3 separate regions of the Homo sapiens genome follow, and all the other regions are reported to be linked to region 1. The links are microRNA targets in miRTarBase. Many come from high-throughput screens and were not tested one by one. Region 1 holds a microRNA gene; each other region holds the end of a gene's coding sequence.
Evidence for each region. The annotated mature microRNA hsa-miR-6810-5p reads AUGGGGACAGGGAUCAGCAUGGC and lies in region 1 at 1,831-1,853, opposite strand. An mRNA with a match to its seed (bases 2 to 7 or 8) in the 3' UTR can be bound and repressed. Matches are read on the target gene's strand: a 7mer-m8 pairs with bases 2 to 8, a 7mer-A1 pairs with bases 2 to 7 and ends in A, and an 8mer does both.

Region 2: the mRNA of HLX is a reported target of hsa-miR-6810-5p. The part of its 3' UTR that is shown has no 7-base or 8-base seed match.
Region 3: the mRNA of CRK is a reported target of hsa-miR-6810-5p. Seed matches in the 3' UTR shown: 7mer-A1 at 1,977-1,983.

Annotation. Positions count from the first base shown.
Region 1 is chr2:218,340,516-218,343,768 of GRCh38, reverse strand. It overlaps MIR6810 (microRNA 6810), which reads right to left and starts at 1,858; the gene lies at 1,789-1,858. It overlaps PNKD (PNKD metallo-beta-lactamase domain containing), which reads right to left. Exons shown (of 10, transcript NM_015488.5): 5 at 2,983-3,041; 6 at 2,143-2,235; 7 at 1,625-1,788; 8 at 183-269. All of the region lies in intron 2 of CATIP-AS2 (CATIP antisense RNA 2), which reads left to right. RefSeq lists an enhancer at 1-251.
Region 2 is chr1:220,884,260-220,887,512 of GRCh38, reverse strand. It overlaps HLX (H2.0 like homeobox), which reads right to left. Exons shown (of 4, transcript NM_021958.4): 4 at 2,454-3,253. The coding sequence ends at 2,809. Among named protein-coding and RNA genes, the nearest start is that of HLX-AS1, 5.7 kb to the right of the region's middle.
Region 3 is chr17:1,420,762-1,424,014 of GRCh38, forward strand. CRK (CRK proto-oncogene, adaptor protein) reads right to left here. Exons shown (of 3, transcript NM_016823.4): 3 at 1-2,889. The coding sequence ends at 2,752. Among named protein-coding and RNA genes, the nearest start is that of CRK-AS1, 2.2 kb to the right of the region's middle.

The DNA of each region.
Region 1 (3,253 bases):
AGCCAGCACTCCAGGAAGAAGGGAGGCCAGAACTCTGTCCCTACCCCTAGAGGTGGAGCTGTGTCGCTTCTGGGCCAGGAACTGGGCTGGCCTGCTTTCTAGGGGAGTGAGGGGGTGGGAAGGCCCTTGTCCCAGGCTGAGCGTGGGGCTGGAGGATGGGGAGTAGTAAGGGGGTGTCTCACCAGGCCACAGAAGGGTGTCATCCCCTAGCCCCAGCACAGTGTCCAGTGAGCTCAGCATGGTCTCTGCATTGCCCTCAAAGGTCCGCCCTGGGTGGGGGTTGGAGGGTATGTCACAAGGTGCCAGGATAACACAATATGGCATAAGGCACACCCAGACAGGTGGGAACCAGCTTGTAATGCTCTGGCTGGCCGTCAGCCCTGACTGTGCACTTTCCAGACCCACCCCAGGCATCTATTCCCTCCTCACTGGGAACTGGGCCCAACTGGTCACCCCCTGACCAAGCCCATCCGAGGCCTCCGTTGCACACAGTGACACCTGAAGGGAGGGGCTGTGGAATCTTCGGGCTGCAGGCCCCAGGCTTGGTAGACGCAGGGCTGCTCTTTCCCACGGAACACTTCTTCGCCTAGGCTGCCCTTTGGGATTTCATGCAGCCTGGGACTTGTGATCCTCACCCACCCACTCACCTAGCTGTTCTTAACTTTTCATAACCTAGTCCTGCCAGTCACTGTATCAGAGAACCAGTCTCCACCCAGGGGAAACTAATTCCCTGCAGGGCTTTACTCAGCTACAGACATTCTCCCATTCTGTCCCGCAGCTGGCAGAAGTCTTTTTTATTTTTGAGACAGAGTCTCATTGTTGCCCAGGCTGCAGTGCAGTGGCACAATCATAGCTCACTGCAACCTTGAATTCCTGGGCTCACCACCACACTGGCTAATTTTTGTATTTTTTGTAGAGACGGGGTTTCACCATGTTGCCCAAGCTGGTCTTGAACTCCTGGGCTCAAGCAATCCACTTGCTTTGGCCTCCCAGAGTTCTGGGATTACAGGCCTGAGTCACTGCTCCTGGCCTATATTATTTATATTATTTAAATTTTTTTTTCTGTTTTGTGACAGAGTCTCACTCTGTCTTCCAGGTTGGAGTGCAGTGGCGCGATCTCAGCTCGCTGCAACCTCTACCTCTCGGGTTCAAGCAGTTCTCCTGTCTCAGCCTCCCTAGTAGCTGGGATTACAGGCATGCACCACCATGCCCGGCTAATTTCTGTATTTTTAGTAGAGACGGGGTTTCACCATGTTGACCAGGCTGGTCTTGAACTCCTGACCTCAGGTGATCCTCCCACCTCAGCCTCCCAAAGTGCTGGGATTACAGGCATGAGCCACCACGCCTGGCCTATTTTAAAATTTTTTTGTAGAGACAGTCTTGCTATTTTGCCCAGTCTGGTCTCCAACTCCTAGCCTCAAGTGATCCTCCTGCCTCAGCCTCCCAAGGTGCCCCAAGGGAAGTCTCAAGGATTAAAACCAATCTGAGTAACACAGATGGAAGTAACTGCCACGGCAACATCTGTGCTAAAACTAAGGCTTCAGTGCTCTCCATGGGACTGTGGCTGCCCTGGCTTCTGTCTCTCCCTCCTCTCCCAGCTCCTCTCTCTTTCGGGGAAACTCACCACAGCCAGAGAGGAAGAGCAGGTCCCCTGAGAAGAGGCAGGAGGGACCCTTGTAGGGCTCCCCATCCAGTAGGTAGACCAGATGGCCTTGTGTGTGGCCAGGTGTAGCCAGGGCCCGGATCTGAAGCCGTCCCACGCTGACCACATCTTGATGACACAGGGGACTGGGGAACAAGGGAGCAGGGGACAGAAGGTATTGGATCTGTGCCATGCTGATCCCTGTCCCCATCCCAGGCCCAAGGGGCTGGGTGATTCACAAGAGAGTGGGCTTCCATACAAAAGAAGTCACCCCAGTGCCTCGGGTCTCAGGTCCGAACCCTCCCCCTTTCCTCTTTTGGGGACTATGGCTGGATCAGTTGGGGGATGGGCAGTGCCAGTCTTCAGATAGGCTGGGATTGGGCCAGGAAGGGCACTGGCAAAGATCCACCTGCTGATACCCCTGAAACACTTCACTGAAGGCTGGGGGTGGGGGAAAGGGCCCATGGAAGGGCCATCCCTTGCCTAGGTCAGGGACTTACTGGGTGAGGTAGGGGATGCCGTCCTGAGGGCTCCCGTACACCCGACAGTCCCGGTGCCGCCGGCTGAGGTCACGGTTCCCTCCACTGTGGTCCCTGCAGGACAGCAGAGACAGGCAGGGGGCTTCGAGGGGCAACTGTACCTAAGCCCCCTTCTTTACCACAGCATCTCCAGGCCTTTAAGTGCTGGGGCTGTGGCTTCTGGACTAAGCCAAGTTGTCCACACCTCTAGGCCTTTGTTCAAGCTGTTCCCTTGCCCAGAACATCGCCCCCAACAACTCAAGCTGGCCAATGCCAGCCGAGCTTCCTGAACCCTCAGCTCAGGTCATCATCTTTCAATTCTCCAAGTGGATCTGATCACACCGTGCCTGGGCCTCCCATCCCTGTTCCCTGTGCCAACTGTTACCTAAATATCACATACTTCTTTTTTGAAGACAAGGTCTCACTATGTTGCCCAGGTTGGGCTTGAACTCCCAACCCTCTTGCCTCCGCTGTTATATACTTTGATACAGGGCTACCTCCCCTATTGGTCTTAGAATTTCCTTGATGGAAGAGTCATAACTTTTGTCCATGCCCAGTGTGCAGTAGGTATCTAATACATGCCCATGAAATGAAAGAGAAATGACTGCCCTGCCCTCTGGGGCTTCAGAAGCTTGATCAATGGAGTGGTGGGAGACTGTCCCCTCTCCTCCCTCCCTGCTGGTGTCCAGGTGACTTCACGAGGAAGGCGGGTGCCGGCCCGTACTGACTTCTTGATCTCTGGCCCCGGCCGTCCTCAATGGGCCCAGTCCTGGCAAGCCCAGCTGGGACAAGGGTGGGCCAGGGAAGACGGGAGCCCCTTACCAGTGCTTGTGAGTACACAGAATGGCGACCAAGGTGACCCCTTCCTTTTCAATGGAAGCCTGCGAGAGAGAGGAGGTTTGGAGACTGGGGAGCAGGATGCAAGAGGCACTTGAAGCAGCAAGAGCCAGGAGTGTGGGCGCTGGTGGAGAGGAGAGGAGAGCATGGAGAGATGAAGCAGAGGAAAGGGATGGAGCTGGAGGGGAGAGATCCAGGAATGTGAAGCACGGGGCACATGGAGGCAGAGGGACACTTGTACATAGAGAGAGGCAGA
Region 2 (3,253 bases), not on the chromosome of region 1:
TCCGGGTCTGAAAACTCTAGGTCTTGGTTGAAGAATTTCGAGCTGCTTGGCCGCCTTTGCTAGCATTTTGCGCTGCCAAGAAGACCCCAGTACCCGGGGTCGAGAGAGCAGCCCTGGGATGGGACTATCCGGCCAAATTTTAGCCTTTCCTCCTGGCCACCTGTGGCTACCCTTCTTCCAGATGAACTGTAACTTTTCCGGGGCTTGTGATATTCCGATTCTGATGAAATGTGGAAGAACTCCACTGCTAGGGTAAAGCCCCGCAAGAACTTCAGGTGATAACTGACTAGGAACTGGGGGTGGGGGTGGCGGAAGCAGGGGCGCCTCCTGCGAGCACTAGGGTGGTATTCGTCCTTCTGACTCCCGCCCTCAGGCGCTCACCCCCCCGGCTCACTTCATCCCTGAGCCCCCCAGCTCTGCCGTGCCCCCTGGCCTGGCGAAAGGTGGCCTAAATAAGGCAGAATTCTACCTGAAATCACATCATGACATTCCCCGATGATGATTTTCTTCACGTTCAAAGCCCCGGGGCCAGGGCGTGGACCTACGGTCTGGGTTTGGCGGTAGCGGAAACCTCCAGGGCCAGGTGAGGAGCAGGGGAAAGTGCGGTTTGTATAAAGCATCCTCCCCACCTTTCTTCCCTAGACTCCGCTCCTCAGCTAAGTGTGCGTGCCGACGCGTTATTCTCCTTAACGCCAGAGCTGGATTGAAGCACCTCAAAATTCGATGTGCTTGGGATATCCTGCTTCCAGAATTTCGATATGTGGGGTCAGGGGAAATTGATATCGATAATGCAGACAAAACTGAGGTACAGAGGGAATCCTGAAGTTTGGCAGCAGAGCCTACAGAAGGCTTGAAGAACTATCCCAGCCCTGGCCCGCACCCAGGCCAGGTGGGGAGGCTGCCCTGGCCTGGAAACTCTTGTGACACAATTAGGGATAACAGCTAGTTCATGTTCCTATTGAAGATGGGGTCCCTTGTGGTATGCTCTTTCTTTTCTCTTGACTAAATTGTACATCTCTGATCATTCTGCCCCTACTCCATTCTCACTGCTCTTGAATCATCTCGATTTGGGGACTTAGGGGGTTGGCTGGGTCAGGAAATGATCATCTTTGCATCCATGTGTTGGCTTTGGGACTTGTTATCTGTATCTTGTATCTGGCTATGCAAGTGTAAGAAGGCTCAATCTGCTGCCTCTACTTCACCCCTGGATGGAAAAGTCGAGAACAGAGATCCTGGAATGAGCTCCAGGGGAATGTCTAAAAGTGGAGGAGATAAGCAAGACAGAGGACTGCTGAGAACTTTCCCACTCTGGCCAAGGGACTGAGGTGTGTCCTAGGCTCTCTGACTTCAGCACCTCTCCTCAACTCATTCTGAGAACTGGCCACCCCGCCTGGATGCTGGGTCTGCCAGAGACCTTGTGTCCTTCACTTGCTCAGTGCCGAAGAGATTGGCACTGAGACTGATCAGGATTTCCCAAAGAAATCTATTTGCTATAAAATCCCCCCAAAGAGCTTTTAGCAACTCCAGACATTTCACAGTTACAAGCAGGAGGACAGGTCCTGGAGAGAGGTTTAACTTTTCACCTTTAAAAGAAATAAACAAACAAAAAATCTTTGAATTGCCCATCCTAGTAGCAGTGTCAAGGTTTACTACATATTTTCCAGCTGCAGTGGGATGGGGAAACTGCCTCACGACTCTCAGCAGCTTTGGGGAGAAAGAGCTCATCTAGGCACCTCCAGTGGCCAAATTGCAAAGGAAAATTTTTGCGTGGATGAGGGAATGGAGGATGCAACTTCATAGTTCTATCCGTGGCCACATGTAGGCCAGGAAGTCCAAGTTCTGATCTGGGCTGTGCCTCTGCTTCACCTTGAAGAAGTCACCTCTTTGTTTGGCATGTTTACAACCAGGGCCCTGGCACTCTAAGACCCAAGCTTCCAGCTCTAACCACTGTGTCATGTCTGTCCTTTCCTCAGCAACATTGCAAACCTGTCCTCTACCCCATCCCGGAACAAGGAAAAGTTTGTGCAGGGCTCTGGGCCCGCGCTTCGCGTCCACATAGTGATTACAGCTGTGCCTAGATTGACCCCGCCTGGCATCACTGCCTTCCCCATTCCAACTCTGAGTACTCTAGGAACTCATTTCGTCCATACTGTGAATGGGGAAACCATCTGTTGCACTGGCCTAACAGTTTCTATGGCCTGCTCCACTCTCAGGCTACTCAGGGTCTCAGAGGGCACTTTCAGTGGCAGTTGGCGCTAGAAATCTCTTAATTAGAAGCCTCTAAACCCAGACGCCCATCTCTGATGTCTGTAACAAGATGGCTCTGAGGTTGAGCCACTTCCCCTGAAACTCCAGCCCCACCACCTTCAGCTGCTGCATTCTACAGTGTCCCCGGGACTAAGGTCCGGTTGTAGATCTCTGGCCTTAACAACCCCCAGCAAAGCCAAGCGGCCTTTACAAACCGTAGTAAACATTTTATTTACAAATTTAAGGCGTCCTAAGTGCCTTTGAGCCACGACCTCTGGGGCGAGTCAGAGAAACAGTTTAGTCAAACACCTCACAGTCGAACCAGCCTGCTTCCGGAGAGAAGTGTTCGGCTGGCTAGCAGGACACTGAGACTCCCCTCTGCTTTGGGCAGTGTCCGCTGCAGCCAGTCGGAGCAGCGTGGGGCGAAGCGTGAATGTCGGGAGGTAGGCTCCACGCTGCGTCTCCTGCCCTACCAAGTCGCCAACATACAGTAAGCACAAAACCCAGCCCATGGTTGGGAGGCTGCACGCAAGGCCCGGATCCCCTCCGCCCTAGTACAGTCTATAAGCAGCCAAGCGCGCCTTGGGCTGGCTCGGGGCTTTTGGGAGCGCTGCTGGCTGTGGGCTGTGTTGCAGGGAGAAGCTCCGAGGCGCCGCCGCCGCCAAGGCTGCTGGCGCAACCCGCACTGGTGCTGCTGCTACTAAGACTGCTGGCGCTGCTGAAGCTGAAACTATTGCCGCCGCCGCCGCTGCTCCCACCACTCCCAGCACTGCTGGCGGTAATGAGGGCGCCAGTGACCGGGGCCTTAATAACTGTTGTTTGGTGCAGAGAACGCTCACTCCCCTCAGTCCGCTCCGTGTCGCTGGGGGCCATGTCCAGGGACTCGGAGTCGCTGCTCTCGCTCTCAGCCTCGCCTTCAGAACGGCTGGGGCTCCTCTCGTCCTGCTCGCCATCCGCAGCCGGGGCTCCACCTGATGGCTTCTCGCCAGCCTCCTTGTCCTTGTCC
Region 3 (3,253 bases), not on the chromosome of region 1:
TACAATACATGCTACCAAAAAAAATTTTTTTTTAAATTTAACTGTCAAGAAAGTGTATAGTGTTATAATACAATGGCACATGTTTATATTTTATTTCAAATTGGTTTGCTTATCACCTATTTCAAACCATTAACAGTGAAATGTTACTTGTGGATAATTAAAAATTATCTATTTGCATTATTAACAATAAACAATTCCAACAAATTAATAAGAATTAACCATGTCAAATATTAGTATTCAAAAAATGGGATTTGCAGAAATGATTATATAAAATATAGCAGCCAATTTCAGTTTACTTTGCCAATAGGATTTCAGCATTTGCTTTTTTTTGGAAGACACTTATAAGACATCCTTTGATTTCTTGAGGGGCATTAACTGCCACACTCAACAGTCAAATCCAGCCCAGTGGTTCATGAACGGCCCTGGATCACTGATCACTGAGGAATCCTTAGGACTTGAGTAGCGCTGCCTGTTCCACTGATATTACATATGATGAAAAGAGACATTACAAGCCAATATCAAAGTCAAAGGAAAAGAAAATAGGAACATTCAAATCAGTTGTGACAAGGTTTTTCTACAAGTATTTTTGATGCCATACTTTCAGGAAAACAAGATTTAATGTGTGTGTGGACTTTACAGTATCTACGTTCTAACTGAAAATTTAACAAAGCAGTCAGATGGAATTACATGTAGTATTACAAATGTGTTCATTCAACACTAATGAGCACCCACTCTGTGCATAGCACTGGGCTACCATTTTACAAGTTGAGTTTAACGTCTTTATCAAGCATGACCTTAGTGTGAGGTAAAATACATTAAATTAGCGTCAACGCGTTAGTCTGCTTGCGGCCATGTACGGAATCCTGGGCCAGCTGGCTTCCCTGTGCCACGTCACCGGTTTCTCAGGTCTCCTCATTCACTCAGACAAATACGTGCACACTGACTGTGTGTCAGACAGTGTGCCGGTCACTCGGACACCACAATCTGGTATAGGTTCAAAGAATGTAAATTTATCATTTTAACCTATGCAGAACAATTAGAAAGGCAGATTATTTTTCCAAAATGAGGTCCAAAGCAAACTATAAGGTGTTTCTATTGGTCATACCACACCAGAGACCGGTAAGTGCCTTTATAGACTGAGAACTAACGTGGAAGTTTCATGCTGTCGTCTAAATAGCCTAGGTCATTTTTGGTCTCATAGGTCTATTTTGTGGAGCACCTGACCCCATATAAATCATTCCATACTTAAATGGGTTTGTAAACTAAACCTGAACATAAACAAAGAGCCAAAAATGAAGGCAGTTTACAATGTAATGTTCTTCAACAGCATTACTCTCCCCATGAGAAATGAATAATACATAAGTAATTCACAATTGGTTCAACATTTTTTTTTCTTTTTTTTTTCCTTTTTTTTTTTTTTGAGACTGAGTCTTGCCCTGTCGCTCAGGCTGGAACGCAGTGGTGCGATCTCGGCTCACTGCAGCCTCCACCTCCCAGGTTGAAGCAATTCTCCTGCCTCAGCCTCCCGAGTAGCTGGGATTACAGGCGTGCACCACCACGCCGGGCTAATTTTTTATATCTTTAGCAGAGATGGGGTTTCACTATGTTGGCCAGGCTGGTCTCGAACTCCTGACCTCATGATCCACCCGCCTCGGCCTCCCAAAGTGCTGGGATTACAGACGTGAGCCACCGCGCCCAGCCGGTTCAACATTTTTTCAAAGCACTAACCCTACCCCAAATTCATGTAATACTAACTTGACTTTTATACAAGTTGCACAGAATGCAGAGGGCAGAATTTGACCCCAAAACCTTCCACAGAATATCAGAGGTGATTGGTCCTTCCACTCTTGAGTAGAACCTAAGAATTCCAAGAGTCTCCTAATAGGATACTGGCCCTCTGGAGAAATGGCCCTGCTGGATCCCATTAGTTAGGACTCTAGTTAGCTGCTGTAGAAGGGTGACCTACTACGACCCTTTTGGGGAAGGCAGAGAGCTGGGAGACTGGCTGTCCACTTAGTGAATCCAACACTGGCTTAAAGCTATGCACTGAATAAAGTGCTCGGTACATCCTGCTTTTCACCTGGAATGAAAATACACACTTATCTTAGGAATTCACCTACTTACAGGTTTGGGGGACAAGAATGTCAAGGGCTAAAAGAATCCCAAGAAAAAGTATGAAGCATTGACTAGGAGGGAACAAATGCTTCTAGTAGTGTTCTTAGAATTCTTAGGATCTGAAATGTCAGAATGAGTCACACGCTGGTCATGCTCCATACAATGAAAGCAATCCTGCTTGATACTATTCACACGGTGCATGATTACTTCACGGGGGTGGAACGGAACAGTCTGTCGCCATTTGATAGTATGGTTCCAGAATGAAAACAAAACCACTGAATAAATCAGGGTAAGCAGTGTGTAACACTCCTTCCTGTCCATCGGTTTTCCACAGGGTGATTTGCACTGCCTGAGAGAAAGGAGGCAAGATACCTATCCCTTCTGATACACACAGGCACGACCACTACCGCCTCCAATTGCCAATTCAGAAGCTAACACACAAGCCCTCCAGTTCGTACCCTGAATATGGTAATTAAGACTAGGAATGGAGCAGTTCAGTCTAAAAAATATCACAGGTAACAGAATGCTTATATAAACTAGACTGCTTTTGACATCTGTAAGAAAATTGTATAGATGGCAGTTGGAAAAAAAAAAAAAAGATTGTTCCCATCTGTCAGCAAAACTGTTGAACTATACTCAGCTGAAGTCCTCATCGGGATTCTGTTGATCCAGCAGACGGACATGTGTGAATGGGAAGTGACCTCGTTTGCCATTACACTCCCCTTCCCACTGACCACTCACATTAATCTTCGTAACCTTTACCAGCTCACCGACCTGCAGGAGGAGAATAAGGAGAGCACTTTATTTCCAGGTAGGAATGCAAGCTGAACAACTCCATTCTCTGGTTAGGCACACCCTGCCCATGTGACTGCTCTAGGGATATTACAGAAATGGCCATTTGCTGCCTCCCCAGCCCCAGCCACCAGACTGATTACTTGTGGTTAATGCAGGCAGAAGGAAAAGTGTTTTTAGCAGTGTGGAAAAACAGAGAATACAGAAAGTAAAAGGGATTCCAGATAATGATACTTTTTGATTAAAAAAGGAAAGTGATAATTATTGGAAATCTCAGCTGTCTCTGCATGAGCAATCCCAACTTCAGTGAGTTAGCTACTATTCCCTTTCTTTGTACTCACTACCC